7 linked regions of the Homo sapiens genome follow. The protein of the gene in region 7 interacts with the protein of the main gene of each other region in a pairwise test. Each region holds a gene or a part of one and is shown on either strand. Other genes may lie near its edges.

The links.
Region 1: the proteins of BCAR3 (region 7) and AP1M1 interact in binary tests that used the Homo sapiens proteins (3 or more experiments, as listed by UniProt).
Region 2: the proteins of BCAR3 (region 7) and UBASH3A interact in binary tests that used the Homo sapiens proteins (3 or more experiments, as listed by UniProt).
Region 3: the proteins of BCAR3 (region 7) and KPNA1 interact in a two-hybrid assay, tested with the Homo sapiens proteins (one large-scale study listed by BioGRID and IntAct).
Region 4: the proteins of BCAR3 (region 7) and KIT interact in binary tests that used the Homo sapiens proteins (3 or more experiments, as listed by UniProt).
Region 5: the proteins of BCAR3 (region 7) and MTA3 interact in a two-hybrid assay, tested with the Homo sapiens proteins (one large-scale study listed by BioGRID and IntAct).
Region 6: the proteins of BCAR3 (region 7) and DRC4 interact in binary tests that used the Homo sapiens proteins (3 or more experiments, as listed by UniProt).

The regions. Positions count from the first base shown.
Region 1 is NC_000019.10:16,224,996-16,229,175, forward strand, and holds part of AP1M1 (AP-1 complex subunit mu-1), read left to right. Parts: intron 1-1,425; coding exon 1,426-1,552; intron 1,553-2,552; coding exon 2,553-2,695; intron 2,696-3,141; coding exon 3,142-3,213; intron 3,214-3,774; coding exon 3,775-3,933; intron 3,934-4,180. UniProt on the Homo sapiens protein: Subunit of clathrin-associated adaptor protein complex 1 that plays a role in protein sorting in the trans-Golgi network (TGN) and endosomes.
Region 2 is NC_000021.9:42,406,902-42,411,081, reverse strand, and holds part of UBASH3A (ubiquitin-associated and SH3 domain-containing protein A), read right to left. Parts: intron 1,661-4,180; coding exon 1,474-1,660; intron 1-1,473. UniProt on the Homo sapiens protein: Interferes with CBL-mediated down-regulation and degradation of receptor-type tyrosine kinases. Promotes accumulation of activated target receptors, such as T-cell receptors, EGFR and PDGFRB, on the cell surface.
Region 3 is NC_000003.12:122,451,883-122,456,062, reverse strand, and holds part of KPNA1 (importin subunit alpha-5), read left to right. Parts: intron 1-2,061; coding exon 2,062-2,193; intron 2,194-3,998; coding exon 3,999-4,087; intron 4,088-4,180. UniProt on the Homo sapiens protein: Functions in nuclear protein import as an adapter protein for nuclear receptor KPNB1. Binds specifically and directly to substrates containing either a simple or bipartite NLS motif.
Region 4 is NC_000004.12:54,733,984-54,738,163, forward strand, and holds part of KIT (mast/stem cell growth factor receptor Kit isoform 1 precursor), read left to right. Parts: intron 1-2,514; coding exon 2,515-2,626; intron 2,627-2,737; coding exon 2,738-2,837; intron 2,838-3,191; coding exon 3,192-3,297; intron 3,298-4,180. UniProt on the Homo sapiens protein: Tyrosine-protein kinase that acts as a cell-surface receptor for the cytokine KITLG/SCF and plays an essential role in the regulation of cell survival and proliferation, hematopoiesis, stem cell maintenance, gametogenesis, mast cell development, migration and function, and in melanogenesis.
Region 5 is NC_000002.12:42,704,353-42,708,532, forward strand, and holds part of MTA3 (metastasis-associated protein MTA3), read left to right. Parts: intron 1-3,550; coding exon 3,551-3,702; intron 3,703-4,180. UniProt on the Homo sapiens protein: Acts as a component of the histone deacetylase NuRD complex which participates in the remodeling of chromatin.
Region 6 is NC_000016.10:90,042,105-90,045,675, reverse strand, and holds the end of DRC4 (dynein regulatory complex subunit 4), read right to left. Parts: intron 3,207-3,571; coding exon 3,141-3,206; intron 2,775-3,140; exon of another isoform or gene 2,481-2,774; coding exon 2,331-2,480; 3' UTR 716-2,330; downstream 1-715. UniProt on the Homo sapiens protein: Component of the nexin-dynein regulatory complex (N-DRC), a key regulator of ciliary/flagellar motility which maintains the alignment and integrity of the distal axoneme and regulates microtubule sliding in motile axonemes.
Region 7 is NC_000001.11:93,587,295-93,591,474, reverse strand, and holds part of BCAR3 (breast cancer anti-estrogen resistance protein 3), read left to right. Parts: intron 1-307; exon of another isoform or gene 308-2,055; coding exon 2,056-2,498; intron 2,499-4,180. UniProt on the Homo sapiens protein: Acts as an adapter protein downstream of several growth factor receptors to promote cell proliferation, migration, and redistribution of actin fibers.

The sequences.
Region 1 (4,180 bases), on a different chromosome or scaffold from region 7:
CAGGGAAGCTGTTGTGCACCATGGGATCAGGGAGCCGCTTGCGAGATGAGGACAGGACAGCACGAGGAGGTGAGGCTGGGGAAGGTGACAGAACCGGAGCCCTTGGGGCCATGTCCGGTTCCCTGCCCCTCCCAGGGCTGTCATTTGCTTGGCACCTCAGTTTTCCCAATTCCCTCAGAGGCGGCAAGCTGGTGAGGGGCTTTTGTTTGTCTACCCAGTGCTTTTTGGACATCATGCATAAGACTGCACAGACTCTCCTGCCACTCTGCAGACAGGAAATGCAGGCCCTGCACATGTTAGCCTGGCTGGAGCCAGCATCTGGGCCCAGGTATCCAAGTCGGTGGCCTTTGGCCCACTTGCTGGTGTGAGCATGGCCTCGTGCAGCATAGCAGTGTGCAGTGGTGGCCAGGGCTGCAGCCCCAGCGATTCTTCTGCCAGTCACTCTGTGCCCTCAGCACGGGGCCTCTGATCTGTGCCTGTTTCCTCACCTCTAAAATGGATGCAAGAAGAGATGCTCCAGCATCTTGGCTCACGCAGGACAGGCTAGGGGGTGCAGGACCGTCGCCCCGGTGTGGATTTTCAGTTGCACTTTCAGATGCATCTCGGCATGCGCAGTGGGTTACAGCCCCTCAGGTCATCTCCCCACAGTCCCTGCCCCAGAGGTTGTCGAGGCGTGTGTGGAGCAATGCCTGGCGCAGTGGAAATGCTGTCAGTGTTAGCCACTGTGACTGGATTTAAGTTGATTATTTTGGATCAAGTGTTATCACACTTCAGGGTGGCCCTGAGAAGCAAGAAGGGGTCAGGACTCAGGAAGCACCATCTCTCATAAGCCCTGGGGGGTGAGGGGCCAGTGGCCTCCCTGGGAGGCCAAGAGGAGAAACAGCTTTCAAGAAAAGCAAGTCTGGCCTGGTTCAAGAGACCCCAGCCCAGCCCAGCCCATCGGCTGAGCAGGGACCACAGGGTCCTGGCCCAGGTCCAGCCGAGCTCATGGACTCTCAAAGCTGACTCAGCGTGGGGACCAGCTGCCGGGCCGGCCCGGAGCATTCAGGGGGCTCCTGGGAGGGAGGGACTGGTACCTGATAGAGAACCCTCAGAGGGGGCTCCAGGCACGCATCATCAGGTCCCAGTGTGGCCTGAGGCCTAGAGGGCAGGACCCACAGTGTCCACCTCATGTCCACAGGGCCTCGGCATGAAGGCTGGAGGGGTGAGCCTGGGGACCCTCAGCCAGGCGTGGGTTGGTGTGGGTTAGGGGTAGACCTTAGCCACAGCTGGGACTCTCCCAGCTCAGGGGATGCCCAGGAGAGGGATGGGCTTGGAGGTGAGAAGGGCGTTGAGAGTGGGGTGGCCAGAGGGTCACATGATGTGGTAGGAGGCAGTGGCTGGTGAGTTGGGGACCTCCCCTCACGCCCACACCGCCACCCCCAGGTCAGCGCCAACGGCAATGTCCTGCGCAGCGAGATCGTGGGCTCCATCAAGATGCGAGTCTTCCTCTCGGGCATGCCCGAGCTGCGCCTGGGCCTCAACGACAAGGTCCTCTTTGACAACACGGGCCGTGAGTACCCTTGCCAAGGGCCCTGCCCATGAGGATGGCCTCACCAGGCACACACATTACAGCCTAGGGCAGGGTTGGGCCAGGCGGAGGAACGAGCTGGTTTCAAGCACTTGGTTGAGCAGCACTTCACACTGCTTGAGACAGCTGTGTAGAGTATTCATCCTTCCCTGGACATAGAAGGTGCAGGGGAGTGAAGATCCTCCAGTCCAGCTGGGAGGCCCCCGTCACCCGGCCTCACACGCCAGGTCCTGCACCCTGCCCTGCTCTGCCTGGGGCACTGGGGCCTAGGCTAAGGCCTTGCTCTCTCCCTCCCAGGCCAGGTTTCTCCCCTCACCTTGGGCCCTAGGTGTGGGCCGTGTGAAGGCCACGCATGGTGATTCTCGCTCCCGCCGCCTGGCCTCTAACACTTCCCACAGCAGGGCGGGGGCAGAGGGGCCCAGGGCCTGGTTTTGTGAACTGTGCCTCCCACTCAGCTGTCACAGGCCACTGGAAGAGGGTGCAGTGGCTGGGCATGCCCCCGTTCCTAGCCCGGTGAGGGCTTCTCGGGCATCAGTCTATCAGGGCAGCTCCCCGCCTGGGGCTGGGCAGGGCCCCACCCACATAGCCCTCAGTGAGGTGGCAAACCAAGGTAGGACCCAGGACCCCGTGGATGCCAGGGCCTGAGCCCTTGGGGAGCCCCGAGCCATCCCCCAGCCAAGTCCACTGATCAATCATTCAGTGAACGTGTCCTGAGCAGGTCCCCTGGCTGGGCCCTGGGATGGCCGCTGGGGACTCAGCATGAACCAGACCCACCAGCCCTGCCCCTGGGGACCCCAGGGGTGTGAGGAGTGATGGGGCAGTTGTCTTGGGACCCAGCCCCCTTGGTGTTTGTGGCCCAGGCTGCTCTCAGTGCGTGGACTGGGGGCCCTGCTCTGCCGGGGTGGGTTGCAGGTGGTAGGAGTACTGCTGAGATAGTGACCCGGAGGGCCCAGATCTGTCCTACCCTCACCCCTGACCCCAGGCGGCAAAAGCAAATCCGTGGAGCTGGAGGATGTGAAGTTCCACCAGTGTGTGCGGCTATCACGCTTCGAGAATGACCGCACCATCTCCTTCATCCCACCCGACGGCGAGTTCGAGCTCATGTCCTACCGTCTCAACACCCACGTGAGTGCGCCACCCTGGGGCTGGGCTGTCGGCAGACTCCTCCTCCCCTTCACCTCCAGGAGGTGAAGCCCAGGCAGGCGCCAGGGCCAGCCCCACCCCACGCTCCATGAGCTGCCTGGCTCTGCAGAGATGGAGTCTGAGGACTTGGGACTCCGAGCTTTCTGAGGGGCACAGACCCCTTTGGCCACCACCACCCCTTTCCCAGGCAGCCCCCAGAGCAGGCCCTGGTCATGTTTTCTGCATTTGCCCCAAGGCCTCCCCGGTAGCTCCCGGCTACCTCGGCCTGTCTGCCCTGGCCCTCCCTGACGCTGGCTGTACGCTCCCTGCAGGGCTCTGGGCCCACACCTGGGCAGATGGTCCCTTGCCCTGGGCCTTGGTTTCCCCTCTGAAATGGGCCTTTGTCAAACAAGGCCAGGTGTGAGCACCCTCTTTGCCCTCCTTGGCAGGTCAAGCCTTTGATATGGATCGAGTCGGTGATCGAGAAGCACTCCCACAGCCGCATCGAGTACATGATCAAGGTGCGTGGGCCGAGGCCACCCACTGAGGGCCTTCTGGTGTCTCTGGCCCGTCCCAGGAGCCTAACCGAGGGCTGGGGGTGCCGTAGGGCTGCCATCCGTGCACCCTCACTGTGGCCTCAGATGCAGGAGTGACCTGACACTGAGGGGACACCGCCTGGGGCCTGCTCCTAGATGGTGCCACTTGTGGGGAGGGGCCTGTAGCCAGGCATCCAGGACACTCCCAGAGGTGTTGCCCCCAGGTGGAGCACCTCTGCCCCTCAGCGACCCTGTCCAGCGCAGCCTGGCCCTGGGACATAGACATTGTCCTAGGAGGGCAGGGCAGAGGGAGGGATGAGGAGCCTTGGAAGCTGAGCAGACAGGAGGATGAAGATGAAACTCCTGAAATTAGGTCTTGGGAGAGTCTCGAGGGCAGGAGAAGGGGTGGGTAGTGCCTGGAGAAGTGGGGCCAGGGGCGGGGCTAGGGAGGATCCCCCGGGCCAGGCTGAGGGGCATGTGTCCTGGAGAGGCTGGCCAGCTCACCTTGGCCTCCATAACCCCGGGCCGCATTGGCCTGGCCTGCAGGCCAAAAGCCAGTTCAAGCGGCGGTCAACAGCCAACAACGTGGAGATCCACATTCCCGTGCCCAATGATGCCGACTCACCCAAGTTCAAGACGACGGTGGGGAGCGTTAAGTGGGTCCCCGAGAACAGCGAGATCGTGTGGTCCATCAAGTCCTTCCCGGTGAGCACTCTGTCCAGACATCCACGTGCCCCCTGCGCCTGTCTCTGCAAGGCAGCCTGGGTGCCTCAGGACCCCCTGCACCTCAAGATGGGGTGACAGTGGCCACTGTGTCTTCCACACCTGGGGCTTCTGAAAGGGTGGACGGAGAGCTGAGGACTGGAGTGGGAGGAAGCAGAGGCTGACTCGGCCCCTGGGCCCCTTTCTGCCTTCCTCTTGTTTGTGAACCAGCCTCTGTCTTCACCTCAGG
Region 2 (4,180 bases), on a different chromosome or scaffold from region 7:
TGTGTCTGTATGCATGTATGTGTGTGTATCTGTGTGTGCCGTGTGTACGTCTCCATGTCTGTGTGTGTCTGTGTGTCTATATCTATGTATGTCTGTATGCATGTATGTGTGTGTATCTGTGTGTGCCGTGTGTACGTCTCTGTGTCTATCTGTGTGTGTCTGTGTGTCTATATCTATGTATGTCTGTATGCATGTATGTGTGTGTATCTGTGTGCATGTGTAAGTCTCTGTGTCAATCTGTGTGTGTCTATGTGTGTGAGCTATGTGTGTGTCTCTGTGTCTATCTGTGTGTGTGTGTGTGTGCTTGCACCTCAGTGGGCTGGGGAAGGAGTGGGGGGCCAAGGCCTGCTCTGATTTCTGAGCTGTGTCACATGGCTTGGGCTGCCTTGCCTTTCCCCGTTGGCTCCAGAGGGTGAACCAGAAGGGAGTCAGCTTGTCACAAGTACCATTGATGTCGATGTAGGGGGAAAACTCTCTCGATTTTTCTGGGGCTTTTCCAGGTTTAGTCTTGTGCTCTGGGGATCCCTGCAAGTCTCGGGCAATCCGGGGTGGTGGTTGGAGGCTTTGGAAGGTACTGCTTCTCCTGGGACATCTTCCAGAAATCTTTTCCCTTCAGAGGTTTGCATTCCTCCTTTCCATCCAGCACCGAGGGGCCTGGTGTTGGAATGGAGGGTTCCTTGGGCCCTGATGGAATTCCTTGAAATGGGTGGAACAAATCAGTTTGCCAACAGCAGAGTTGGGGCCAGGCCGCGGTAGCAGAAGTGGGTGTGCCCTTCCTTAAGCCCCTCTGGCGGAGCTGAGTAGAGCAGTGGCTGTCTGTCTCTCCCTTCTCCTTCTTTTCTCCTGAGCAGCTCCCACATTCTTCTTGTCTTCCCGGTGCCCCTGTAGAGCTGCCTGCTGGGCCATTGTGTTTTGCTGTGGAGCTACCCACTGGGCCATTTTTTTTCTGAATCAGACGGCTGGTCCCTGAGACAGGGAAAAGTTCTGCATTTGTGGGTAGCCAACAATCACCCATCCTTGAGTTGACTTACCACACATTTTGGAAGCACAAACTCTGTTTTAGGGGCTGTGCTAGTTTCTGGGGGTGCAAAGATGAGTGAGGTATCTGCCTTCCCTTGAGGGACTCGGTCTGGTGAGGGATGCGGTGCTGCACCAGACACATGGCCCGTATGATACAAAAGTGCCACTAGACACATGAACGAGAAAATGGGCAGCAACTCCTTTTGCCTGGGGAGCTGGAGAAGACTCAAAAAGGGGAGAGGATAAATGAGTTGGGTTCTGAAGGATTAATAGGAGTTGACCAGATGAAGGCAAAGAGGAAAATAAAGGACAGCTCATATGAAGGTGCCAGCTAATGATGCAGTTCTGGACTATCCCATTTAAATAAGTCAACTTTGTCCCATCATGGCCTAGTTAGCACAGAAAAATGCCTCCAGCTGCCGTGAGCATTGAAGGCACACTGGGTTGACTCACCGTGAAGAAGTCACAGAGTGTCACGTGTGGGAAGACCTCATGAGCTCTGTTCTTTGCACACTGGCGCTTGCTCTCTCTCCAGAACTCTTGAAGTTTTTCCAGCAGGGGCCCCGTTGGACAGAGGAAAAGGGCATACTCCTGGGGGATGGGGTCGTCTAGGGAAGGGTCATTGCAATGATCATGCAGCCTGCAACAGAGAGCAAGCCGGCATCACCCACTGTCACAACAAAAAGAGTTTTCCCCTTTGAGGATACACAACAGAATGACAATGACAGCAATGCAGAATTATAGGGCACACTGAAGACATCATATATGCTCATGACATAAATTAATCTCACAGCCATCCTACTGGTGGGAGGCACTGCGGCACAGCTGTGTGTGGCACAGACCTGGTCAGTGTAAGTCCTGCTCTCAGACCCACCTTAGTCTGATTCCAAAGTCAAAGGTAGAAAAAATGAAAGAAAGTTGACAGCAAGACCTAAAACCTGGTCTTCCAATGATCCGTGGGCCCAGCATCTCCTTGATGGTGTGGGAAAATTTTGTGGAAAAACCTCACATTTGTATTTTACCTCAAACTTCAAATTACATATAAAAACCAAAACCAAAAACCTAGACAAAATTTAGGTAGCTGCTGCGTTTCTTTAGATTCAGACAGTTTTTATTTTATTTTATTTTATTTTATTTTATTTTATTTTATTTTATTTTATTTTATTTTATTTTATTTTTGAGATGGAGTCTTTCTCTGTCACCCAGGCTGGAGTGCAGTGGCACAATCTCAGCTCACTGCAACCTCCACCTCTCCGGTTCAAGCAATTTTCCTGCCTCAGCCTCCTGACTGGCTGGGATTTCAGGCAGACAGTTATTTTAAATTAAAGGAAAAACGACGGATGACCCAACATAGGAGTTCATTGTCACTAACAATAAAAATGGAAATAAAATAGCTCCGAGACGGCATTTTTCTCATCTGTCAAGTTCACAAAGATTTTTTCAATAAAAAGGATAAAAGTTCTGCTCAATGTGTAAAAGATGCAGCAGGACTTAAGGACAGACCTTTCAACTTTTATGTGAAGCAATTTGCCAATAGGTATTGAGAGTCTTAAAATGCCCACACTCTTTGCATTAATAATTCTACTTCCAGAAATTTCTCCCGAGGAAAGAGCACAAAGTACTGTATAGGCAAAACTTTGCACATGAACCATCTATTTAGGGCTATTTAGAAGAAAGTTAGAAGGTTATTTAGGGTTATTTAGAAGAAAGAAGAAAAACTCCATAACTGATAGCAAATCTATTTACCGTGCATTCATTAGAAATCATGGTTTGGAAGAATTTCTAATTACTCAGCAAAGTGCCTGTGATATAATTTTCAATTTAGAAAGTAGTATTCAATCACTAGAGGAAACAGAACTTACGCAAGACCATATTCTCTTCAATAAAAATCACAGAAGAAGTTGCCACTCCTCTCCATCGTGGTTCCCACCCTCCCCCTTTCCAGGGTTCACCCAGAGGGTGAAGCTGCTTTGCCTTCTCCCAGAAATTTAAGTAACGGACTTATAGATAGCACTTGTTTTACATAAATCATAAGCTGTTATTCAAATTATTCTACAACTGGCATTTTTCCTCTACCATGTCTTTTCAATTAATCCCTGTTGATACACACGTGTCTAGTGAAGTTTGTCAGCGCGAATTTGTTAAAGGCTGTGTAATAGTTCATGTATACATATACAATGTTGCACTTGTTCATTCCCGCATTGATGAACATCTAAATTATTTTATTTTAAAACCATTTCATAACCCTGCAATCAAGATCTTTGTACATGTCTCTTTAGGCTCCTTGCATTTCTCCAGGGAATCTGCTTAGACGCACGACGGAGGCTGGTGGGCTGTGCATATTGCCAAGGTTGGCAGATACCCAGCACTGCCTTCCTCAGTGACACCAGTGACGTGTGAGGCCCTGCTTCCCTCACCCTCATCAACACTTGGAGTTACCTTGTTTGCTCTAATGATATCTTAATTTGCACCACCTCCCTGGTTACTAGTGAGAGGTTGGGGTGCTCTTGACAGTCTAGGGGACCCCATTGCCTCCCTATTTTTTGGTGGGGTTCCTAGTCTTATTGACTGGGTTGCAGTGGGCAGGTGCTGGCCATGCCCTTCACAGCAGTGGGCTTGTTTCTGATCCAAAATTGGCAACTGGCTTTAGTGGACTCTGTGAAGGGGTTGCCCATTTTGCCCGTGGCCTACACTTTCTGGAGGAGGAGGGGGCATCCCATTGGGAACACTGCACGTTCAGAGACCCAGGATCAGTATCTGCCCTCCTGCTTTGGAGAGGACACTCCAGCCTCCCAGGACCTGGTTTTTATTGTTTGATTTTCCCCGTGGCTATCTCAGGGCAGAGGATGAAGGACTCCCCACAGCACATCCGGGTAGGAGAGGGTTTTAGAGAAACGGTGGCCCTCCTCTCCATCCCCAGAGCAGAGAACAGGCCCATGGCAGTGGGTGGCTTGAAGAATCACTCACGCAGCTGGTACCTGGTGAGGTCACCTCAAATCAGAGCCCTCACCCGACCCACACACCTGGCACCCTTAGACCCACACACCTGGCTTCATGACCACCAGTAAACTCCCTTCCCCTCAGAGGCAGCCCGAGAGCATGGTGGCCGCTAGTCTCTATCAGCAAAGATGTCAATTATGTCTCAAATCTTTCCATCAAT
Region 3 (4,180 bases), on a different chromosome or scaffold from region 7:
TGGGCTTCGTAATGTATTAGATTAGGAGGCTGTAACTTAGTCCTTGTCTTTGACTGTGTAACATTACTCGAGTCATTAGTCAAATTGTTGGATTTTTTTTCAGATAGTTTCCTCATTTGTACACAAGAAAAGCCAGATACTTTACATCTCTGGGTTGTTGTAGGGATCATCTGCGAGTATGTGAATAGTACTTTGAAAATATAAAGTGGCCGGGTGCGGTGGCTCATGCTTGTAATCCCAGCACTTTGGGAGGCCTAGATGGGAGGATGACTTGAGATCAGGAGTTCAAGGCCAGCCTGACAAACATGATGAAACCTCGTCTCTACTAAAAATATAAAAATTAGCCGGGCGTGGTGGCACATGCCTGTAATCCCAGCTACTTGGGAGGCTGAGGCAGGAGAATCACTTGAATCCGGGAGGTGGAGGTTGCAGTGAGCTGAGAACGTGACATTGCACTCCAGCCTGGGCAACAAGACTGAGACTCTGTCTCAAAAAAGAAAAAAAAGAAAATATAAAGTACGGTACAAATGTCAAGTTTTAATTCAGACGTACTGAAAGGGACTGAGTGTTGCTTTCATTAGTAATTTAATCATAGAGATAAATATGGGAAGAATTTTTATTTCATGATATCTGGGGTTTAATCTGTAAGTCCCCAGAATTTTTGTTATAACAAAAAGGGACCAGATACGGGCTCTTTAACCGAAGTACTCCTACTCTGGGCCTCCCTGCTGCTACTAAACCACCTTACCTCACTCATGTATGTCACTTTTATAGTTTTCTTTGGAACATCCATTGGTTATGTGTCTTCTGCTATGAATTTTCTATCACTAACATGGCTTTGAACGTGATTTGATCAGATGGCCCATTTTCCTGTCTTCCTCTATTCCCAAAGATTAATGAATTTAGTTTTCTACCTGACAGCTACCTTTTAGTTAATCTGGAAGCTTAGAAGAATCACAGGTCATTTGATGACGACTTGTTATTTTCTCTGATTTAAAGGACATGCCATGGAATTTTTCTTTTTTTCTGTGTATGTGCTTTATTAAATAGAAGACAGAATGGTGGAAGAAACAACCTGAAATGTAATTAAGAACTCTTAACTAAATAGAAAAGAGTTCATTATTGGATTTCTCAATATTAAGCTAAAGAGTCAAGTTAGTGTTAGAGATATATTTTAGTAATATGCTCTATTTTTTGTTGGCCATAATTTCCTTTATATCTTCTGTTTACCAGTGCTGTAATGCTATATATCAACCTTTAGTCAGTTTACCTTCATTTTTCCCTCCCTATTAAGAATGCCCAAAAAGTCCTATCTCTGTATTTTGGTTTGGAGCTCTCTCATTTATTGGAAGCTCTTATTCTTTGAAGTTGTCATTTCTTTTCATTATGTGCTGTTAACTCCTTTCACCTACTTATCATTTGATACCTTTTGCCTTTTTCACTGTGCCTGTATTTTATGTTTCACACTAACATTCTCCCCCCATTTTACTTTGCCCATTCTACAGAAGTTTTTAAATCTTTTTTATTAGATAACATACATGGTACAGGCTAAAAGGCACATAAAGCTTTCCAGTGAAAAGTATCTTTTTCATCCTTATTCCCTAGTTACCATCACCTTTCTATGCAGGCAACAAGTATTTAGTTTCCTCTAACTCATTCTGAAGATAATCTGTGCAATAAGTAAATTAATGCATATATTCCTTTTTAACGCTTTTAGAAAATATGGTATAATGCCATATTAATGTACACTGTTTGCATTTTGTTTTCATTTATATCTTGGGAGATCATACCATATCAGCATATGTAACACTCTCTCATTCTTTTTATGGTGTCATGTTTACTCTTTCTTGAACTGAAATTTTAGACACCCTGAATATTCTTCTAGGTTGAGGTATTTCTTCTGGATATTCTTCTTTTAAAATTAATATAGTACTCAACTGATAGGTTATGTGCAAATAATGATCTCAGAATCTTTTTTTCATGTACAGAAAATGTTACTGTTATAAGTAAACAAACTTTTACATTCTAAAAAGATAATGAAAATTATTTTTATCTTTATAGTTTGAATCAGCTTGGGTACTGACAAATATTGCTTCAGGAAATTCTCTTCAGACCCGAATTGTGATTCAGGCAGGAGCTGTGCCCATCTTCATAGAGTTGCTCAGCTCAGAGTTTGAAGATGTCCAGGAACAGGTAAAAATGAAACAAAAAGAAGCAGGTGAAAGAAAGTTTTTGGCTGGGCATGTCGCTCACTCCTGTAATCCCAACATTTTGGGAGGCCAAGGTGGGTGGATCACGAGGAGTTCGAGACCAGCCTAGCCAACATGGTGAAATCCCGTCTCTACTAAAAATACAAAAATTAGCCGGGCATGGTGGTACGTGTCTGTAATCCCAGCTACTTGGGAGGCTGAGGCAGGAGAATTGCTTGAACCCGAGAGGTGGAGGTTACAGTGAGCCGAGATCGCGTCATTGCACTCCAGCCTGGGTGACGAGAGCAAGACTTTGTCTCAAAAAAAACAAAACAAACAAAAAAAGAAAAACAAAAAAAACCACAAAATTTCCCAACATAATAAGGGGCTGAGTTTCACCAGTTGGCTTTGGTAATCTATGGATTGTCACAAAGGAGTGTTCTAGAAATTTAGTCTTAACCAAATAGAAAATTTCTTAGTGACTGTAGGCAGAATTTCTCTTAGACACATAAAATAATCTTCCCCTTCCAAACCTGACATTCTTTAAGCCCTGTATATGTACTTTTTTAGACCATGTAAGCAGTTACTGATAGAGGTTTTTTCTTGTAGAAATTTCAAGTGTTGAAAGTAGGCCAGGTGCTGTGGTTCCTGCCTGTAATTCCAGCACTTGGGAGGCTGAAGTGGGCAGCTTGCTTGAGCCCAGGAGCTCGAGACCAGCCAGGGCAACATGGCGAAACCCAGTCTCTACAGAAAATAAAGTAGGTGGGCATGGTGGCACACGCCTGTTGTCCCAGCTGCTTGAGAGGCTGAGGTGGGAGGGTTCACTTGAGCTCCAGGAGGCTGAGGCTGCAGTGAGCCGATATCACACCACCGCACTCCAGCCTCGGTAACAGAGTGAGACCTATCTCAAAAAAAAAGAAAGTGGCTAGTCTTTGCCACTTTTGTGCAGAAAAGTACAGAAAGCAAGTTTCTTTTTGTTCACTGTTTTCTTATGTAAGCAAGAAAATACTCTCTTTCTGTCTCTTTTTTTCTTTCTGTCTTTCTCTCTTTCTGTCTCTCCATCTTTCCGTCTTTCTTTCTCTCCGTCTCTCCATCTCTCCTTCTCTCCGTCTCTCCTTCCCTCTGTCTCTCCTTCCCTCCGTCTCTCCTTCCCTCCTTCCCTCCGTCTCTCCGTCTCTCCCTCCCTCCCTCCTTCCCTCCTTCTCTTGCTTCCTCCCTCCCTCCCTCCCTCCCTCTCTCCTCCCTCCCTCCTTTCCCTCCCTCCCTTCCTTCCTTCCTTCCTTCCTTCCTTCCTTCCTTCCCTCCTTCCCTCCCTCCCTCCCTCCCTCCTTCCCTCCTTCCCTCCTTCCCTCCTTCCCTCCTTCCCTCCTTCCGTCTGTCCCTGTCACCCAGGCTGGAGTGCATTGGCTCAATCTCGGCTCACTGCAACCTTGGCCTGTCAGGTTCAAGCAGTTCTCATGCCTCAGCCTCTCAAGCAGCTGGGATTACAGGCGCCTGCCACCACACCCGGCTAATTTTGTATTTTTAGTAGAGATGGAGTTTCACTGTGTTGCACTCCATACTGGGTGACAGAGCGAGATTCTGTATCAAAAAACAAAAACAAACAAAAATGAATTAGTTCTTTCCTTTAATAAACCGAATACCTTCTGTTTGTTGTACACTTTAGGATATTATTTATCTTCCTCCCCCAATCCTACAACTGTTTCATTTGACTCCCTGATGAACGTGTTATTGTGATATACTGGCATCTGAAAGAATTATGAGGGAATTAAACTATGTAACCTTTATTAATGAATGATTCTTTCACAGGCAGTCTGGGCTCTTGGCAACATTGCTGGAGATAGTACCATGTGCAGGGACTATGTCTTAGACTGCAATATCCTTCCCCCTCTTTTGCAGTAAGTTTCTTCTTCCTTCTTCCTTTTTTTTTCTTTTTGAGAATAAAAATGTAAGAGATTCCTCAGAAAGCATTACATGTTTGGAAATCATTT
Region 4 (4,180 bases), on a different chromosome or scaffold from region 7:
TAATGTAATGTTTTCCCCCCATCACTGTGGCGTCTCTATTGGTAGCCTGTACTCGATTTGGTTTTGTAAGAGTGTTTCTGTGTTTATCTCCTGGCCAAAGCATGAATTTCTGAAAAGGCTGCCCTGAAGCTAGATATTATCATCAGGAGTGATAATAAAAACAACTTCTCTTCATCCTGGTGCAATTTTGGAAGGAAGAATGATAAGTCGTTAATTATCCAGTCCTCTGAATATTGACCAAAGGGAGGAGGAAGAAGGTGGCCGCCTCCAGGCCCAGTCTTGATGAATTCTGCAATCTGTCTCCATTATTTCATGCCTGTGTAATTTTGTCAAGAGTTGTCCAATACCTCTGAATCTTTGTTTTTCTCCCCTTGGGAATAATAGTGATTCCTGACTCAGAAAGTTATGAGTTAATATATGTAAAGTGCTTATGACAGTGCCAGACATATTGTTACTATTCTTTATAGATGTCTTATTTACGATCTAAATAATCGTGACGGTGGTTACATACTGTCTTGTTATTGGTTAGTGACCTTAGTTTGAAATGACAAAGAGGGGTTGGCTCTATCAGGCTTCCAGATTGTAGACTCCAGTTCAAGTCAGTTGAACTAACCAATCACAGATCTCGCTTTCACCAGGCTAGTGGGTAAGGAGAATTTCTGGAACAAGATAAGAAGAAGGAAACTCATATATGTTACCGCCCCACATTTTTGTCATCATCATTTGAGATCTCCTTGTTGTGTCAGGTTCTCTGAAGTTCTTTCCTTTCACATGAGTTCTTCATTGTTTTTCATGTCATGGCCCCTTTTAGAGCCTGGTAAAGCCTATGGGACCCTTATCAGAACACTGTTTTCAACGCCTATGATGAAATACATAGGAATACCAAGGAAAACAGTTAAATCGAAATAGCTATGAAGATACTAAGTAAATTTGTGATATGTCAGTACATGTGTTTACTATAGAGTGTAACAGGCTCTGTTAGGTTGGTGTAAAAGTAATTGTGGGTTTTGCTATTTTTTCTAAAAACCACTGTAATTTTAGAGTGGTGATTAATGTAAATATGATTTTGAGATACCTATAAAGACTTAATAGGATATGAAGATATTTATGATTACTGTTCATGACAAAGTCACAGGTACAGCTGATACTACTGCGTTTTATCACCTTTGTTAGTAATTTAAAGAAATGCTAAATTTCATCTAGAAATTAGCGAAAATAAGGATGTCATTTTTCCTTTCCAAGTTCACAGGCCCCTGAATTTGACACCCATAGATCTCAGGTTAGGAGCCCTTATAGGAACTTTAGCACAACATCTAGGAAGGGAAGGGATATTGGAAGTTTTTTGTTTTGTTTTTGTAAGCTGACTAAAATAACTTTAACACCAAAAAAAAAAAAGAAAAAAAAAAAAAGCTTTCCCAGTTTTCAATCCTAAATGGATTAAGAGAAGGATTGATTTAGCTTTTTATGGCAGATTAAGATTGGGAATCCAGAATGCATCTAAAAGGACTAGTTACAGAAAGTTTAGCTCAACTTTAATGGAGAGAGTTCTCCAAAGAGTCAGGATCACAAGCCACTACTGTTTATCAAGTACTTGCCTTTCTTCTAGGCAATTTTTCAGATAGCACTGAGTCAGGCGGTGCTAAGCATTTTTACCCATTTTATCTTATTTAACCCACAAGACAATTCATAAAATTAAAAGTATTCATTTTGTTTTACAGAAGAAGATACTGAGGCTTAATTACAAATATTTTAGTGACTTTCCCAGTGTATTAGAGAAAGTTTTGGGTTTTGACAGAAAACCCAAAATAAAAGAAGTCTAGGAGTAGACTTTATACCAGGATTGGTATAAAGGTTCCATGGAGTACCCGGGCAAGTCTTTCCTTTCCATGCTTAGCCATTCCTGAGTGTAACCCCCATGTCCATGGTCCAAGATGACCACCAGGTGGATAGCCAGCCATCATATCCAGAAGGCAGGGGGCCCTTGCACTAGAGAAGAGAGGGCAGAGGGCACGTGCCAGCTATATTGTAAGGAGGTTTTCCTGAAGCTGCTATACAGCACTTACAACTTAGTGGCCAAAACCGAGTCACCTAACTACAGCTAGCTAGCTGCAAAGGAGGCTGGGAAATGTAGTCCTAATTGTGAGAGGCCGTGTTTCTGTTTTTAAGGAAGGAGAGGGACATATTCAGTGGAAACTAACAAATCTCTGCATTACCTAAGGCCCATGGTGGAGCCAGGGCTAAAATGTCTGGCTGTCTCTGACGTTTGTGCTCTTAATCTCCATGCCGTACTGACATAGTGCTCACATCTTAAAATGGGGATAATGCACTTGTGAGCCATGTATTTCAGAGGTGATTGGGATCATCTGAGTTCATATAGGTAAAAGGTTTTTGTGAGATGGTACTCAAGTTATCACTCCACATTTCAGCAACAGCAGCATCTATAAGAATATCTTCTGTTCAATTTTGTTGAGCTTCTGAATTAACATTATTGACTCTGTTGTGCTTCTATTACAGGCTCGACTACCTGTGAAGTGGATGGCACCTGAAAGCATTTTCAACTGTGTATACACGTTTGAAAGTGACGTCTGGTCCTATGGGATTTTTCTTTGGGAGCTGTTCTCTTTAGGTAAAATGATCCTTGCCAAAGACAACTTCATTAGACTCAGAGCATCTTCTTGAAGTTTCATTGGTGTCCTGCTTCCTTGTGATTAACACTGCTTTGCAAACTGTGTCTCAGGAAGCAGCCCCTATCCTGGAATGCCGGTCGATTCTAAGTTCTACAAGATGATCAAGGAAGGCTTCCGGATGCTCAGCCCTGAACACGCACCTGCTGAAATGTAAGAGCCAAAAAATTTTTCCTTTAGGTCACGTTTTCCCTTTTATTTTTCTTTTTAGAGACAGAAACCCAGATGTTGAGGGTTTTCATAACACAGTTTGAAATGTCACTTGGATTCTTTATGACACACTGGTCAAATGTCATTTCTGTAGTTTATTTTCATAATCTCTTGTCACCAAAAATACAGAAAGTTTCAGTAATATTTCATACATGCAGTGTTTTATGTTATCTATATGTCAGTCCATATGTCCAGTTGCATAGCCCTGGAATTATTACTGAAGTTGCTGGATGCCCATACATTTGAAAACAAGCTGAGGGCATTGAGGAGGGATAGTAAATGGCCCTTGTCTTGCAGGTATGACATAATGAAGACTTGCTGGGATGCAGATCCCCTAAAAAGACCAACATTCAAGCAAATTGTTCAGCTAATTGAGAAGCAGATTTCAGAGAGCACCAATCATGTGAGTATACCCTGGCCAGGCATAGAATCCCCCTTCTCCCAGTTCCAGGTGTGTCCTCCTCCTCAGGCTTTCAGGGTGAGGACTAACCTCCCAACCCCTTCTCTCCTAATCTTAGGTTGCAAATTGGGCTTCAGGTAGGGGAAGTAAAGCAATGGAAACTAGTTCTTTCTGCCCAGCCCTCCTGTTCTGAGCCAAAGAAGGATGTGAGATTGAGGGGGAAGGGTGGAGAGTTTTGTACTCACTGGAAGTAGAAGTTTCCATAAGGATTTGCCATGTTTCCTCCCTCATCTCAAATGCTGGTCACGGGGTCAGTATTTTCTCCCTCTCACATGTCAGGGCCATGCATCCTTTGGAGGGTTGGGGTGATGTGAACTAGAATAAAAGCATAGAAAAGACAGCTTGTTACTGCAGTGAAATAAGCCTTCTGATCAAACAAGCATAGCCAGAAAATGGCAGATAGCTGTCATGCCCACAAGCCATATAGAATGAAGAGCTGTTTGAAGTTGGGAGATCCCTCCCAGTGATTTGGGAAGTGTGGGGGAATGAAAACTCAAATCCATTATTTCCTCTCTTTTTAAGCAAGAATTAGTGATACTTTGACTCAGATTTTTTTAAGCTGCTTTCTTTCCTGGGCTGTGTGCTTGGAGCTATCTTTTCTTTCCTAATAGCACACCACTGATAATTTTTGGGTTAAAGCTTGTTCTTCTGGGTGTCAAAACATGTTTCAAATTGAACAGCATTTTCCACCCAGTTGCTTTGATTCTTGACAAGAGACCCCTGGAAGGGCCGTGGGTTTCCCAGCAAATTACATTGGTTATTGGGTTGTAGTTGCTGGAGAGATTTACAAGCCTTTTAAATAGGTAAGATAGTGCTTGGTGCCTGG
Region 5 (4,180 bases), on a different chromosome or scaffold from region 7:
GAACTGTTCTGGCTCATGGGGTGTGAGCGTCTGGGAAGTGCCTGAGGTCAGTACGGTGCACCTTGGAAGGCACAAGCATGTCTCCTCTAAATGAGTAGATGCCCCTCCTTACCTTCTGCCTGGAACAGAGGGACTGTTTATTGAATCCTTATTACGTACCACACACTCAAGTTAGGCATTGGATTTCCCTTGATGTACTCTTGTGGTTTGTTGATTATTTCATAGCAGTGTTTGCTGAGTTGTGTTTAGAGTCATATTAGCTTTGCAGAAACTGTGTTCCCATGATGCATACCAAATTCCCCTTTGGAGTTTCTCAGTATACTTTGACAAATTAAAGCTCCAAGTAATTCTGTAGGAAAGGCCTCTGTGTGGATAAGCTGCTGTATATAATCCTCAGACCATGTTCCCTCAGTGCACCAGTTTGGGAAATGCTCTTCTATGATACTTGCTTTTGGCCTCAGGATCCCACTGTATTTATCTATGGTGGCAGTATTTTATTTGCCCAGGGTGTTAAATGGGGTCGGTGAAGTGAACCGTTAGGTAGTTGATAGACTTTGTGTGTTTATTTTAAATCTCAAGCAAGGATACAATATCTTAATGGGGCATTGGTGATATTATCATCTATGTTTCCTTCCAGTTAAGGTAGCCTGGGATGGGAGAGGGAAGGAAACGAATGTTTATTGAAAACCTACTTGGTGCCCCATTTTGGGTTCTTAGTAGCTCTTTGAGAGTACATGTAGCCTACTGCCTTCAGGAAGGATATAGGAATGAGGGACGGCTGTGAGTACGATTACGTCGATTGATCCCAAGGAAGGTGTGAGCCAAGTTGCTGAATTTGTAGAAATGGTACATGGGGATGTGTTTAACCATTTTTTTGCAGCATGGGAGCACAAAGGGAAACAATTTGTGGAAAATTAAGATTTTTTAGGTCAGGCTTTTACATGGATAGCATCATAAATACCTTGAATTGGGAATTCTTGGATTTTGTAGTTCATGTATATTCAAATGAAAATGAAAAGAATCCTGCAGACAAGTGGTAGTGGCTTAACCTGTCTTGATTTTAACTTGCAGGCAGGGTGCTGTGGCTCATGCCTGTAATCCCAGCACTTTGGGAGGCTGAGGCGGGTGAATCACCTGAGGTCAGGAGTTCGAGACCAGCCTGGCCAACATGGTGAAACCCCGTCTCTACTAAAAATACCAAAAATTAGCCAGGCATGGTGGCATGCACCTGTAATCCCAGCTACTCAGGAGGCTGAGGCAGGAGAATAGCTTGAACCCAGGAGGCAGAGGTTGCAGTGAGCTGAGATTGCACCATTGCACTCCAACCTGGGTGACAGAGTGAAACATCGTCTCCCCCCCGCCCCCAAAAAAAAAATTAACTTGCAAACCCCTTTCACACTCACGTATATCCCCTTAAATGATTATTCTGTTATTTTTATGTGTGCATGATGAATAAGCTATTTTTATTTTATAATATTTACTTTAGACTCATGTATTACTAATCTCCATGATAAAATGTTATCTTAATATAAGATTTATCCTTACAGAGAGATAGAACTTGATGTTTTCTATTTATTAAATGATACCTACTTTCCAATTGAATTTGAGTTATTTAAGGAGAAAGGCATTTATTGACAATTATTAAAATGATTTGCATGATTAGTTTACGTAAAATGTATGTTTTAAGTGAAATTTTATATTTAGAATTCAAAATAGATTCATAGCTTAATGTTTAAGATTTTGAAGGGGAACATCACATCTGGGGACTGCTGTGGGGTGGGGGGAGCAGGGAGGGATAGCTTTAGGAGATATACCTAATGCTAAATGACGAGTTAATGGGTGCAGCACCCCAGCATGGCACATGTATACATATGTAACTAACCTGCACATTGTGCACATGTACCCTAAAACTTAAGGTATAATAATAATAAAATAAAAAATTTAAAAAATGACTTATTAGTTCTAAATTATAGGAGGAAAGGCTTTTAGGCTTTCATTTGTATAAAATAGTTATTTGTATAAATGAAAGCCTAAAATAGGCCTAAAATATTTACACAAATAAAAGCCTAAAATAATAATCCTCCAAAAATAATACATGATGGGTGTACAGTGTTATTCCCGATAAACATGAATATAATGGTCTCTGTATTTTCTCTTTTTCACATTGGTTTGTGAAGTGTTAGTTGATATCTTCATGTGCTGTTTGAACATTTGAAGGTAACTTACAGGTCAGAGAAATAATATTTTAAGGCAAACTTACAGAATTACAATTTTTTATGCACCCAATTAACTTATGTCTCAACCTCAATGTTTTCTCTTAAACTTCAGATCTATCACACATGTATTTTAAATGTCACATGTCAGTAATTTAAACTACAAAACAAAAACTAACACAAGCTTACAGTGTTCAGCTAGCTGTTAAATCATCTGAGTTTTAGGCCTCAAGCATGCTGTGATGTCAGCTGCCCATGCTCACTTCATATGGATTTAGAGTCTTGAAAGGGATTCTGTCTGTAAATGGAGATTTTAAAATAAGGATTTTACTTATTGATTAAAATAAAGGAGTGCAAAACAGATACCTGTTTGTTTCTTCTCTCCTCCCCTACTCCCTCCCTCTTCCCCTCCCCAGCCCCCTCCTCCTCCCCGCTTCCCTCTGTAACCCAGGCTGGAATGCAGTGGTGCAATCACAGTGGCCTCAACCTCCCAGGCTCAAGCAGTCCTGCTGCCTCAGTCTCTGTAGTCGCTGGGACTACAGGGGTTCACCACCACACCTGGCTGACAGATACCTGTTTTTATTAGATTCCTGACTTTATCAATGAGACCTCCCTGAGTACCTTAAATAATCCTTGGAGTGGTGTCTGAACCCTGGGTTTGGAAACGTGGATTTAGATTTTTTTTTTTTTTCTTTTGAGATGGAGCCTCACTCTGTCGCCCAGGCTGGAGTGCAGTGGCGTGATCTCAGCTCACTGTAACCTCTGCCTCCCACATTCAAGCAATTCTACTGCCTCAGCCTACCGAGTAGCTAGGACTACAGGTGCGTGCCACCATGCCTGGCTAATTTTTTTTGTGTGTTTTCAGTAGAGACGGGGTTTCACCGTGTTAGCCAGGATGGTCTTGATCTCCTGACCTCATGGTCCGCCTGCCTCAACCTCCCAAAGTGCTGGGATTACAGGCGTGAGCCACCATGTCCGGCCCCAGATTTTTTAAATACTACCATCTTTTTGAGAACCTATTTCCAGAAACATACACAATAGAGTATTTTTAATCAACAAAACAAAAACTCCCTCAGCAGCACAATGCATAATACAGGATGCTTCACTGAATAGCTTTAACAGGGCCACAAGCACTTTATATAATAATGGAAATAAGTTGGTTTAATGAATTCTGAGTATTAAAAAAACAAATATACTATTATGTTTGGCTTGTAAGCTGGGAACAATAACATTGTAAACTAAGCATGACAAGTATTTTTAAAATGTTTGATTATTTTGTGTTGATGTTACAAATTAAATAGCATTTTTCGTTTTTTCTTATTTTTCTTCTGCTTTAGCTACACAGTCTCACCAGTGGTATTCTTGGGGCCCACCTAATATGCAGTGTAGATTATGTGCAATTTGTTGGCTTTATTGGAAAAAATATGGAGGCTTGAAAATGCCCACCCAGTCAGAAGAAGAGAAGTTATCTCCTAGCCCAACTACAGAGGTACAGTAGTCTTTTTAGTGTTGAAAAATGGCATGTTTTTAAATGGGTTGATTATTCCTTGGAAACAGAAGTACAGTATAGGATAATTAAAAAATGAAGAAAGCTACCTTTATAGCTAAACGTAGCACTACAATATTCAGGGTAGGTGTGGAGAGAAGCAGAGAGAAATTAAATTTTATCAGGTATTCAGAATAATGGTCTCAGACAAAAAAACAATGAGTGTGGGAGATGTTAGCATAAGTAGAGAGCTTACAAATTAAATGTTTAATTGCTTTTGAAAACAGTTCGTAACCTTTACATTCTGTTGAAGGCGTGTCTTACTACATAAAGTCATAAATGCAAATTAAGCATTTTTTCTCCCCGTGGCTGTTTTGGAGGGACAAGAAGTATGGACTTAATCTTGAGGTGAACAACAGTTTAAATGTGATTTTGGTAAAATCCTCATAGGCTGAAGATGCCAAACGCCTGTGTTTACCAG
Region 6 (3,571 bases), on a different chromosome or scaffold from region 7:
AGCACCTGCCACCACCCCCGGCTAATTTTTGTATTTTTAGTAGAGACAGGGTTTCACCATCTTGGCCAGACTGATCTTGAACTCCTGACCTCGTGATCCACCCACCTTGGCCTCCCAAAGTGCTGGGATTACTGGTGTGAGCCACCTTGTTCGGGCCTGCTCTTTCTAATCACAGCAGAAGCGCACACTTTAAAGACCAGCTGGCAAGAATGATGGGAGGTTTTCCAGAAGTGACTATGGGCAAAGCCACGGTTATTCAGAACCCTGATAAGGGACCAGGGCACACAACACAGACGCTCCGTGGAGTTGGACAGGCCCACTCTGTGGGTGAAGGTTTGGTAGTTATTGACCCAGAAAGCCACACACTTTTTTTTTTTTTTTTTTTTTTTTTTTGAGATGGAGTCTCGCTCTGTCGCCCAGGCTGGAGTGCAGTGGCACGATCTCGGCTCACTACAGCCTCCGCCTCCTGGGTTCATGCCATTCTCCCGCCTCAGCCTCCCGAGTTGGGACTACAGGTGCCCGTGACCACGCCCAGCTAATTTTTTTGTGGTAGAGATGGGGTTTCACCGTGTTAACCAGGATGGTCTCGATACCCTGACCTCATGATCCGCCTGTCTCAGCCTCCCAAAGTGCTGGGATTACAGGTGTGAGCCACCACGCCCAGCCAGCCATACACAATATTTTAAGTGAAAACCACAGGTTATAAAACAATACAAATAGTATAATCCACTTTATAAGTTTTTAAACAAATATACTTATGCATAGAGAAAATCTGGAAAAATATATGCCAGCTATAAAGTGGTTCTTGCTCATGGGATAAATTGTGGGAGACTTTTTCCCTTTTTGCTTCTCTGTGTTGTGATTTCCTAAAGACAGGGCAGTGGTGTCCCTAGACTGCTCTGGAACTGCAGGACCTAACAGCCTCACTGTGTCTGCTCACCCAAGTCTGACAGGTGGCAGGGCAGTGTCTGAGGCCCACTGGGATGCAGACCCAGGAAAGCTGGGGTGGGGGGCTTCTGGTCCCCATCTCTGCAGCCTCATCCTCTCCCCAGCTACACAGACCCAGATGGTCACTGTCCTGGACCAGATGAAGGCAGGCACCTACAAGCTCACCTTCGACACTGAGGGCTACTGGAGGAAGAGGGGGCAGGAAAGCTTCTACCCACATGTGGAGGTGAGAGCCCCAGTGGGCTGGAGGGGGCTGAGGCTCATGACTCACTGGGATCTGCAGGCCAGGTCCTGCTGGCCGGGCATCATTTAGGCAGTGGGCAGACTGGTCCTGGGCGGTGGCAGGTAGGTGAGCTCACTTGCTTTGAGCTCCCAAAAGAAAGGTGTCCAGGCAGCAATAGACTCTACGAGGACACACCCGTCACTCACCTGCCCAGGGTCAGGCTTTGTGGGGAGGCTGGGCCAAGGGTGATTCATCCCCTCTTTGTTGACAGAGGTTTTCATCTGAGCCAACTCCAGCTCTCTGGGCCTAACCTCACTGCCTCACCCCACACTGGAGCCGCCGCAGAAGCGCCTGACTTACTGGGCTGTGGCTTCTGTGGAGTGTCCCTCTGGTGCGGAAGGTTCACCCCATCCCAGACCCTCAGTCTGGGCTGCTGAATTCTCTCAGGTGTGTTGGGGCCAGATAGGTGGTTTGCTGCTATCCCCTTATACTCTCTCCTGGCCTCTCCATCTCAGGTTGTTTTAACCATCACCAGCAAGGCCCAGAAGTTCCACGTGCCCCTGGTCCTACATCACCTACCGAGGGAGTTAGAGCGAAGACTGGCAGCGGGAGGCTGCCTGCCCGTTCCCGCACGCTGGCTGCACCCACCCAGCCCTCAACAGAGCGGGCTTTGTGCTCATCAGGGAGCATTGGCTCACCACTTCCTAGGGAAGTCCCGGCCCCCTGGAGAATCCCACTGGGCAGCTGTGACTCAGGTGTCAATGAAGTTAGTGCCAGCACCTGCAAAGCTGTCCATTCGGTGGGACAACAGTGGCGCGAAGACAGGCAGCACAGCGCGGCACTGCCCCAACCCCCAGGTGAGTGCGGGGCACTCTGAGAAGGTGCCGCCGACTGTGGTCGGAGGTGAGACCAGGGAGTAGGCCTGGACACAGGCTGGACGTGCGGCACCCAGGGAAGGGAGCGACAGGGACACCATGGGTGAGGGTCCTGCAGGTGGTTCTCCTCCACAGAGCCAGGAAAGAGGATGGCAAGAACATGTGAAAAGCTTTCATTTGCTGATGATAAAATCTAAAAAACTTGCTGTCCTTGGTGTGATAAGGGGTGTCATCCCGAGTGTTCCTAGGCTGGTTCTCTGGGCTGTGGCCCCCCAGGGGGGCAGCTACGTCGGGGTGCCCACCAGTCCCGCGGGGCCCTGGCCCAGTGTCTGTCCGATCACAGCTGTTTCCAAGGGCTTGAAGCCCACGTTGTCCAGAGGGATCCCGAAGGCCAGCAGCTTTGCCTCATACGTGCGCAGCAGGTCGTTATGGGCCTGTGGAGACAGGGCAGTGTCAGGGAGCTGAGGGTCCCCACGCTCAGGACCACCAGAGCTGAGTGCAGCTCCATGGAGGGGCAGCGTGAGCATCACGGTGCAGAAGGATAAAGCCAAAGGCTTATCAGTCATTTCCCGTGTGGGACACAGCTCCAAGCACCTTCACTGCGTTGGCTCAGGTAGCACGACAGGGAGAGGCTGTCACTATTCCTATTCCACAAATGACGAGACGGAGGCAGAGGGCAGGGACACTCAGGGCAGAGCTGTGGTCTGGGAGGGCTCTGGGCCCTGGCTGGGTGTTTCCCACTCAGGTTCTTCACGCCCTCCCTTCCCCTGTTGAATGACGTCTGTTTCCTTCCCCGGTGGGCACAGCACCTTCTGACTCCCTGCCCAGGGGAAGGGGCTGACCAGGGAAGCGTCCAGGTCCCCCCCTACACCCATCCCAGCAGAGACATGGCCTAGACAGCAGTGCACTGCCCCAGACCACACAGAATCCAGATGCTCTCGGCTATGACTGCACCCTCACGTGGGGACAGTGACAGCTGCCTTGTCAAACGAGGTACGAAGTGGGCACAGGTGGGGTCCTCAGAGACCGTCTGCATTTAGAACAGTCTGGGCACCGAGGGGGTGCCCCTGAGGGAGGGCAGGGCACAGCCGTACCTTACAGACCTGGGCCAGCTCATACTGCAGGTCCTTGATGGTGCTGTTCTTCGACTCAAGAACATCCTGAGGAGAGAGAGGTGATGGGAGTTTGAGACTCATCTTTTGGCCGAGGCAACGGGAGCGGCCTGGGGACTCCAGTGGGCGTTCTGAGAGATCCAGCGAATAGCAGCCTGGTTTGATGGATGCATCCATCCACACAGGGTTGTCAGCAGAAAAAGGTCTCCAAGGGTGGAGAGAAAACAAGGAAGAAGCAGAGAACTGGGAGCTTGCACAACCTGCCTCTCCAGCAACAGTCCAGGCCAGGCACTGCCGCTCACACCTGTGATCCCAGCAGTGTGGGAGGCCAAGGAGGGCAGATCACTTGAGGTCAGGAGTTTGAGACCAGCCTGGCCAACGTGGCGAAACCCCGTCTCTACTATACGAAAAGT
Region 7 (4,180 bases):
GAGACAGAGTCTTACTCTATCACCCAGGCTGGAGTGCAATAGCACAATCTCAGCTCACTGCAACCTCTACCTCCTGGGTTCAAGCGATTCTCCTGCCTCAGCCTCTCTGGTAGCTGGGATTACAGGTGTCCACCACCATGCCCTGCTAACTTTTATATTTTTAGTAGAGACGGGGTTTCACCATGTTGGCCAGGCTGGTCTCGAACTCCTGCCCTCAAGTGATCCACCCACCTCAGCCTCCCAAAGTGCTGGGATTACAGGCATGAGTCACTGTGCCCAGGCTTTTTTTTTTTTTTTTTTTTTTTTAATGTAGTAGATTTCTTGGCACAATCAAATAAATAATTATTATTCTGACTTTGTTTTTTTAAGTTTAAAATTGATTGTAGAAAACATAGATAGCAAAAAGAAGGAAATTAAACTCTTATCCATAATTCTCCTCATAATTCTCCTGGGGATAACCACGATGAATACTTTTGTGTACATACATCCTCCCGGGCTTTTTGAAATCAAGTATGAGATTGTACTACATATACTTTTTTGGTAGCCCATTCTACTCACTTACTATGTCCTGGGAATTTTCACCCACTGTAGAATATTCTTCTGCACCAGCCTACATTGTATGTCTGTCCACGGTATGCATGCACTACAATTTACTGGACACATAGGGTGTTTCTAATACTCTGACCAATATCCTTTAAGATTGCTGTGTTCATACCTACAATTATTTTCACAGGCTCAATTCTAAGAAGTGGCATTTCTATGTGAAAACATTTTTAAGGCAAAGATGCAATTTTAAAGTAACCATGGTAGCCTACTATTTTGACCTAACAGAAGTATACTGTTGATCAAATGTTGGAATGTTCCAGAAAAATTGTCAGAATTATAAAACCGATACTATCACCACCGTCCGTCTCCTTATCATGGTCATTACATTCGTTTACTACTTGCATGAGTATTAATTTTCAGTGATAAATCGTTCCAAACTGGATAACTGAACACTATAACCATAACCGTAATAACGAGTTATTGCTAACATTTTAGCCCCTTAAATCTTTGTAGCCATTCTATAGGTAATATTATCATTTGTGTTTTTCAGATGATATAAGTGAGCCACAAGGAGATTATGTAATTTGTCCAGAGTCATACAGCTGAGCCAGGATGCAAACCCAGGTGGTCAGGCTACAGGAACAGCCAGGCTGCACCACATTATAAATTCTCCAGTTGCTGTAAGCAGCAGCATCATGCTTGTTAACTATTTTTGAGCATCCACTGTGTTCCAGTGCTTACATATGTTATGTATACAAATACATAACCCTGATAGTAACTGTAAGATGAGGGACCCCAGCCTGACTTTGTTCTAGGCCTTCTAGCCAGTAATTGGTGTGTCCAGAATCTATACCCCAGTCCTGCATGTGGACTCCTCCTCCCCACTGGCCAGGCCTGGAGAGGGGCATCTTAGGAGAGGGCCCCTAGGATGACTTCTAGACACCAACAAATACCCTTCTTTCTCTTCACTCCACTTGTTGGGGAGGGAAAATCAGGCCTGCCAGGCACACATTTTCTCATTTCTTATTTCCTGTTTCATTACATCATTCAGGTCTGTATAAACGTCATGTTCTTGTGACACCTCCCCAACCACCCTATTTTACTGGACAGCCCTCATCCCCTCCCCGGCACTTCCTGCCTCCTTTCCTGGTTTACTTCTTCCCTGACCTTACAGCTGACATACCATAGCCACTGGTTATTTATCCTCACTAAAACAGAAGCTCCCCACCAAAAACAGGAGCTCCATAAGGTGGGCTCTTGTGTGCCACTGTCACCACTGCATCCCCTGAGCCTGCAGTGGTGCTTGGCACGAGTAGGTGGTCAGTGAATAGTTCTTGAATGAATGATTGGCTCTTCTATGAATTTGATCTTTGAAAAACTAAAGAGCTGACCCAAGAAGAGACATAGTAGCATTGTCTTCTGTTGGCCCAGAGAAGTGGGTAGCCATAAGCTTTTAGAAGGAATGTGAATTTGCCTTTCCTACTCCTCACTCACCTTTTTGTCCCAAAGGTGTCTGAAAACCTTGTGCAGCGAGATGGTGACTTCCTAGTTCGTGACTCTCTGTCCAGCCCTGGGAACTTTGTCCTGACCTGTCAGTGGAAGAACCTCGCTCAGCACTTCAAAATCAACCGGACAGTTCTGCGACTCAGCGAGGCCTACAGCCGCGTGCAGTACCAGTTCGAGATGGAGAGCTTCGACTCCATCCCCGGCCTGGTGCGCTGCTACGTGGGCAACCGCCGGCCCATCTCCCAGCAGAGTGGCGCCATCATCTTCCAGCCCATCAACAGGACGGTGCCTCTGCGGTGCCTGGAGGAGCATTATGGCACCTCCCCAGGCCAGGCCCGGGAGGGCAGCCTCACCAAGGGAAGGCCGGATGTGGCCAAGAGGCTGAGCCTCACCATGGGTGGCGTCCAGGCCCGAGAGCAGAATTTGCCCAGGGGAAACCTCCTCAGGTAGGTCAGGGCCTCCTCTGCAGGACTATGAGGGGCGCCGGGGTGCCCAAGGTTAGTTAGGCAGGTGAAGAATTCATCATGGAACAAAGAAATAAAAGATGTTAATAGGAATGCCGACTGTTCGCAGAATAGCTGTCACGAGGCAGTGAACAATTAGCTCCCAGCTGAGCAGTGTCAGCAATGAATGGTACAGGAGCTGAGGAAGAATTTCGGGGGGTGCTGATGGGGATACCTTGTGAAGGGGGTAGACTTAGGCTGGTCTGATGGCTGGGGGAAATTTGGATAGATGCTGCAAAGGGCTGGGGGTGTTCCAGGTGGGAGGCATAGCATGGGCATAAGTGTGGGGACAGAAAATGGTATGAAGAGCTTGAAGTGAATGTGCTGGTAGGGCTGGAACAAAGGGTCTGTGCAAGGGACCCGTAGCAGTGGGCTTAGGGAGATAGCCCCAGCCAGATCATGGGGGCCTTAATGCCAGGTGCAGGGCTTTAAGGGAGCTGTACAGACTCAGCATAGCGAACACGGTGTCCTAAGAATAGAAATGGACAGTGATGTACCGGGGGTGAGGAGAGAGACAGGAACAGGAAACCCAGTTAGTGAGTCATGGAGGGCCCCGGCTGCAGGAGTGGAGTGGAGGGAGAGTCAAGAGATGTAGGAGCCTGGCCTCCCAGGACTCTTCTTCACGTGGTAGAGTCAGAGGAGGGCACATTGGAGACCACAGGAGTGACCAGGAGGGAGGGGACTTTGGAGGATAAAACACACTTTTTCATCTGAGCTGGAAGACTATGGGCTTGTTGAGTGCCACAGTCCAGCAGCAGTTTTGGGGTCCAGGAGGGGAGTTAGAGCTGAAAACTTAAATTAGGGCTTGGTCCACCTGGAAAGGGTGGTTCACTTGGTGAGAACAGATGAGATTTCTAAGATAGGAGATGCAGAGAACATGGGGTCTGTAGTCTGAATCTCAGGGAATGGGGGAAGAGAAAGATTCAGGGCACTTGGTGGAAAATCAAGGCTTCAAAACCTCACTGATCCTAAGCACCCAGCTGTCAAATGTCAGCGACGTTGGCCTGCATTTGTATAGGGCCCGTCTTTCACAGAGCTCAGAGTCTTTGTGCATATTATCTAAAAGCACTGGGAAAGGAAAGGAGGGAAAAGGCAGGCATCGGGGACATAGATCCAGTCCAGCCCCTCAGTCACACAGCAGCCCTGACCCGGCTCCCAGCTTCTAATCTTATGCACGTAAACCAACATATTTTATTCTACTCACTGGTTTTTTTTTTTGGCGGGGGGGTCCATGAGGAAATGTCATAAACTGTCATTTCTATACTGCAAAACTTAGGGAGGAAAATACAGGACTCTGTGTGGAATGTAAATGACAGCTGTGTGCTGCCTGGAGGCTCCGGCACATGCTAGTCAGCATCTGGCTGGGGACCCAGTAGCCAGGCACAAATGCCGGCTCCACATTGGGCAACTTTTCAACCATGGGCAAGCGACTTGACCTTCCTGGGCCTCACCTTCTTCATCTAGAAAGATGGAGCTTGTGAGGTGTACATGATTTAATATATGCAAAGTGCTCAGAACAGTGCAGGCACAGAGGAGGTGCTAGGGAAGTGCTCATGATAATTATTATCTGGAGGAGAGTAGAATGTCAGACTCAGACCCAGCACAGTGGCTCACAGCTGTAATCC